Linked DNA regions of Homo sapiens: region 2 is linked to region 1. The links come from fine-mapping of genetic effects on gene expression. A gene starts in region 1. The other region holds a variant in brackets. All regions are shown on one strand. Distances are from middle to middle.

The links. PIP is the estimated chance that this variant, and not a neighbour inherited with it, causes the effect. A credible set is the group of variants that fine-mapping cannot tell apart.
Region 2: its variant is the best candidate, but not a certain one, in a credible set for the expression of DUSP2 in whole blood (TOPMed, PIP 0.63).

The regions. Positions count from the first base shown.
Region 1 is chr2:96,144,247-96,147,146 of GRCh38, reverse strand. It overlaps DUSP2 (dual specificity phosphatase 2), which reads left to right and starts at 1,707. Exons shown (of 4, transcript NM_004418.4): 1 at 1,707-2,180; 2 at 2,265-2,386; 3 at 2,774-2,900. The coding sequence starts at 1,793. RefSeq lists enhancers at 148-1,027, 1,824-2,325, 2,728-2,777 and a silencer at 1,338-2,097.
Region 2 is chr2:96,421,871-96,424,770 of GRCh38, reverse strand. No RefSeq gene overlaps it. Among named protein-coding and RNA genes, the nearest start is that of NEURL3, 82 kb to the left of the region's middle. RefSeq lists an enhancer at 2,442-2,900. The variant C/TC (reference allele first, on the strand shown) is at 1,216.

The DNA of each region.
Region 1 (2,900 bases):
CTGTTGTGGGCTTTGCTGCCTCAGCCTCCAGACTGGCCTGCCAGGGACAGCGGGGCCTCAGCCAAGTTGCCCAGACAGTGGAGTAGCCTTAGAGCGTTGGAGCCAGTGTGGAAGAGCCGCTGCACCATGATGTGCTCCCCTTACAGATGGAGACACTGAGAGGGTGACGTGGCCCCAGGGACCTTTGGAGTCCTTGGGGCTTTTCTCCTCTGCATCGGCTCTGACCCCAGCACACACAAGCTCCAGCTCCTTCTCACACATAGTGGAACTGCACAGGTACGATGCTGCCCTGCACACAACCAGGCATACAGCACACTGCTGTGAGGAACTCAGGGCAGACAAGTCCAGAAGGGCTGCGGGCTCTCCACAGGTCCCAGCTGTCACTCTTCAAGACGGTCTGGACACAGGGGTCTGTGGGGGAGCCGGAAGGGTCTTTCAGAGGGCACGGAGGAGGGCCTCAGGAGACTGGGGGCTTGGAGGGTGGGTTCTGAAATCCCACGCAGCTGGGGGCAGGGCGAGGGCAGCTCCAGCGCAGTGACGCTGTCTCCACCCACCTCAACTTCTCTGCTTGAGTTTGGGAGTTCACTGCCAACAATTCTTGTGGCTCAGACACCCCACGCACACCTGGGCCTCACCACATCCGGCAGCAGGGCTGGGGGAGGGCGGAATGGAGGGGATACCCAGGCCCCCAGTCCTCCGGGTGCAGTGCTAGCCCTGGACTTTGCTGCCCGGCGGGGCTGGACAGGGAGGCCTAGGATGGGGGAGGCCAGTTCTGTTCTGCTTCTCCCTCTTCCCCTTGCCAAGGTCTTGAAATCCCCGCAGGCCTGGGGAGGGCCGGGAGCGTCAGCGGACTTCCCTCCAGGGCGGGCTTGTGGCAGGGGGAAGTACTTCTCTCTGGGGCCTGGGGGCTTTCCCTGCACCCAGGAGGAAGAAGCTTTGCCCTACACATAACTGGAAACCAGTCACAGACCCCTGCTTTCCCCATGAAAGGCCCTGGGACCCCCCCTCATTTCCCTTCGGCCCAAGCCCAGGGGCCTGGGCCCCGGGGACTGTGTTCTGGCCTAGCTTGGCCACCAACCTACTGCAAGACCCTGAGTACTGGTCTTATCCAGGCAATGGGGGGTGGGGAGGGGGAGGAGAGAGAAAGTCCCTCTGGCTCAAGGTCTCCAAATAGATGAGAAATAGGACATCTCAGCAGGGACCCCCCCCATCATCCAGTGTAGAAATCACCCGTGGCAGCAGGCATTTGTCAATGTTTGTGGTGACAAATTTCTAAGAGGAAAATTCTGGGAGGGAAAGGGAAAAGGCAGAGGAAGCGTGGGGTTAGGGGGTGGGGTACTCCAAGGGTCATCGTTGGCCCTAAAGGGGGACCTGCATCTGAGAAGCTGGGTTCCCCAGGACTGAGTGGCTTGGGACAGGTCAAAGGGTGGGCGCAAAAACGGAGGGGTGCTAGTCCCTCCGACTCCGGGTAACACCTTCCCTTCCCTTAGTCGCTGGTCCCCGCCTCCTCCCGGTGTGTTGGTCCCCGCGCCCTGCCTTCCCCCTCAACCTCCCCCCCGCCCCGAAGTCTCCAGGTCAGCCCAGACTGCGCCCCACGTGAGGGGCGGGGGCGGGCGCGGGCGCCAGCGCCTTCCTGCTCTGCCCTTGTATGGTGCCCCGGAGGCCGGCCCACGGGTACTTAACCCGGGCCGCCGCGGAGGGCGCCCGGAGTCGACCGCTCGGGCAGCGCCACCGCCACGAGAGCCCGGGACGCGGGAAAGACCGAAAGGAAGAGGAAGAGGCACCGGTGGCCATGGGGCTGGAGGCGGCGCGCGAGCTGGAGTGCGCGGCGCTGGGCACGCTGCTGCGGGATCCGCGGGAGGCGGAACGCACGCTGCTGCTGGACTGCCGCCCCTTCCTGGCCTTCTGCCGGCGCCACGTGCGCGCCGCGCGGCCAGTGCCTTGGAACGCGCTGCTGCGGCGCCGCGCGCGCGGCCCTCCTGCCGCCGTTCTCGCCTGCCTGCTGCCCGACCGCGCGCTGCGGACGCGCCTGGTCCGCGGGGAGCTGGCGCGGGCCGTGGTGCTGGACGAGGGCAGTGCCTCGGTGGCGGAGCTCCGGCCCGACAGCCCGGCTCATGTGCTGCTGGCCGCGCTGCTGCACGAGACCCGCGCGGGGCCCACTGCCGTGTACTTCCTGCGAGGTGAGCAAGCCGGCCGCCCTTGGCCCGCCCCACCCGACTCCAGCCCGGCTTTCCCTGCTGATCGTGCTCTTCCCCTCCTTGCAGGAGGCTTCGACGGCTTCCAGGGCTGCTGTCCCGATCTGTGCTCTGAGGCCCCCGCCCCTGCGCTGCCGCCAACAGGGGACAAAACCAGCCGCTCCGACTCCAGGGCTCCTGTCTACGACCAGGTGAGTATTGACCCCCCTCCCCCGAACCTCCCTCTCTCCCCGCCGCGGACTGGGCGCCTCTAGGGAAAGAGCCTGCCATTTGGGGATGCGAGCAGTTTGCCCATATACACACACTTTTATACGTGTGTGTGTTGGGGGAGGGGGTGGGGCATGGCTGCTCGCGCGTGCCTGTATGGGTCTGTGTATGTTTGCATGTGTATGTTGGGAGCATGAAGGGAAATGTATGTCCCGGTGTGTCCTCCGCACATTCCTGAGACCTGTCTCAGGTCAGGAGGACTGGCTGAGGAGTCCTCTTGTCTCGGCCAGCCCATGGGGTCTCCACCCGCTGCTGCTCCAGCTCTCCGGGGCTGGGCTGGAAAGGCCTCACCGCCCCTCTGTTCCCTCCAGGGTGGCCCTGTGGAGATCTTGCCCTACCTGTTCCTGGGCAGCTGCAGTCACTCGTCAGACCTGCAGGGGCTGCAGGCCTGTGGCATCACAGCCGTCCTCAACGTGTCCGCCAGCTGCCCCAACCACT
Region 2 (2,900 bases), 280 kb before region 1:
TTCTCCTGCCTCAGGCTCCTGAGTAGCTGGGAATACAGGTGCCCGCCACCACACCCGGCTAATTTTTTTGTATTTTTGGTAGAGACTGGACAGAGCTCTTTTATTAATTAATTTTGGCAACACCATGTGGAGATAGAAAACTATCACATGTACATCACATACATACATGGACAAATGCAAATAGAGATCTTACAGCTTTCCGTTCCTTTTTTTTTTTTTTTTTTTGAGATAATCTCGCTCTGTTGCCCAGGCTGGAGTGCAGGCCTGATCTTGGCTCAAGTGATTCTCATGCCTCAGCCTCCTGAATTGCTGGGATTACAGCCATGCACCACCACACTTTGCTACTTTTTGTATTTTTAGTAGAAACTGGGTCTCAGTTTGTTGGTCAGGCTGGTCTCAAACTCCTGGCCTCAAGTGATCTGCTCACCTCGGCTTCCCAAAGTGCTGGGATTACAGGCATGAGCCACTGCACAAGGCCCATTCTAAAATTTTAATACACTCTTATCTTTGATATTTGTATCTGAATTGTGTGTTGCTTTTGTGTATGTGTATGTGTTTGTGGGGGAGATTTTTAAGATTTCCTTCTGCCCTGTTATGTAATCCCTTGGAGCCTGTGGATCACATTTCAAGCATGTTACTAAGGAGATGCTGGGGGCTGCCTGAATGTCCTCACAGCCCACGTGAGTGGATAAAAATTTAATCTAATTCCAATCAGCTTTTTTCTTTTCAGCTTCAGGAAGTTGCTTTTGGGATAACATGAGTCCCCTGAGAGCCCCTGATTGGGGCAGGGGGACTGAAATGGCTGAGGGAGCCAAGGGCTGGGAAAGAGAAATGTCTGGTGGGGGTGGACAGAGGCAGGAGGGGGAGGAGTTTAAAGGGGACACATCAAAGGATTCAAGGGAGCTGAAGGGAAGATCAAAGGTGGTCGGAGGAGGAAGGAGGAGGAAATAATGGGAAGACGGAGGTCTTAGAGGGGCCGTTTTGGGGAGGTCTTAAGTTTCCCAGAAAGACCAATCAAGTTCTAAATTATCCTCAGCCAGCTCATGCACTAAGAAGATGGACAGAGCTGGTGGAGCATATAGTTAGCCAGGGTTCAAGAAGGAAGTTTCAGTGGACTGAAAGATTCCCGTGGGAGGAGCAGGGCCAAATAGAGAACAGAGAGCCTTCATGAAGAGCCAGGGAAGAATCTTCCAGCCCAGGATTTGGGGAGGGGAT[C/TC]CCCACTTGAAACAAAGTGAGGAAGAATTTACCAGCCCAGAGCCAGGCCTAGGAGTCAGAGAATGAATGAATCATCTCCACTGCAAACAAAGAGCGGGACTTCCAGTACAGCAGGCAGCTTCCAATCAAAGATGCTTGGGCCTAGCACTGTGGCTCATGTCTGTAATCCTAGCACTTCCAGAGGCTGAGGCAGGAGGATTGCTTAAGCCCAGGAGTTTGAGACCAGCCTGGGCCAATCCTATCTCTAAAAAATAAAATAAAGTTAGGTGTGTGTGGTGGCATGCACCTTGATATGGCTTGTCCCCACCCAAATCTCACCTTGAACTGTAATAATCCCCAAGTGTCAAGAACAGGGCCAGGTGGAGATAACTGACTCATAGGGCTGGTTCCCCCATACTGTCCTCATGGTAGTGAATAAGTCTCGCAAGATCTGATGGTTTTATAAATGGGAGTTCCCTTGCACAAGCTTTCTTGCCTGCTGCCATGTAAGACGTCTCTTTGCTCTTCCTTCATCTTCCACCACGATTGTGAGGCTTCCCCAGCCATGTGGAACTGTGAGTCCATTAAAAATCTTTCCTTTATAAATTACTTAGTCTCGGGTATGTCTTTATTAGCCACATGAGAACAGACTAATACACAGCTGTAGTTCCAGCTACTCAGGAGGCAGAAGTGGGAGGATCACTTGAGGCCAGGAAGTCAGGGCCACAGTGAGCTATGATTGCTCACTCCAGCCTAGGTGATAGAGCAAGAACCTGGTCTCTAAAAACAAAACAAAACAAAACAAACTTGACTGTAACCCAGCTTCTTACAGAGAGAGAATCTTGAGACTCTAATTCAGCTTTTAGCTTATACTCAGTCTTAAGAATAGAAATCTGTGCTCACACTAGACCGCCTCTCTAGATTCTTCTTCACTGGGCAGGGCCTCTCTGAAAGAAAGGCAGCAGCCCCAGTCAGGGGCTTATAGATAAAACTCCCATCTCATTGGGACAGAGCCACTGGGGGAAGGCATGGCTGTGGGCACAGCTTCAGCAGAATAAAACGTTCCTGCCTGCCGACTCTGAAGACAGCAGTGGATCCTGACAATAAGGGTTCTACCAGCACAGCACTTGAGCTCTGCTAAGGGACAGACTGCCTCCTTAAGTGGGTCCCTGACCCCCGTGCCTCCTGACTGAGAGAGACCTCCCAACAGGGGTTGACGAACACCTCATACAGGAGAGTTCCAGATGGCATCAGGCCAGTGCCCCTCTGGGACAGAGCTTCCAGAGGAAGGAGCAGGCAGCAATCTTTGCTGTTCTGCAGCCTCTGCTGGTGATACCCAGGCAAATAGGGTTTGGAGTGGACCTCTAGCAAACTGCAGCAGACCTGCAGAAGAGGGACCTGACTGTTAGAAGAAAAACTAACAAAAAGAAAGCAATAACATCAACATCAACAAAAAGAAGCCCCACACAGAAACCCCATCCAAAGGTCATTAGCCACAAATATCAAAGGTAGATGAATCCACAAATATGAGGAAAACCAGTGCAAAAATGCTGAAAATTCCAGAAACCAGAATGCCCCTTCTCCTTCAAATGATTGCAAGTCCTCTCCAGCAAGAACACAAAACTGGACAGAGAATGAGTTTGACAAATTGACAGAGGTAGACTGTGGGTAATAACAAACTCCTCTGAGCTAAAGGAGCATGTTGT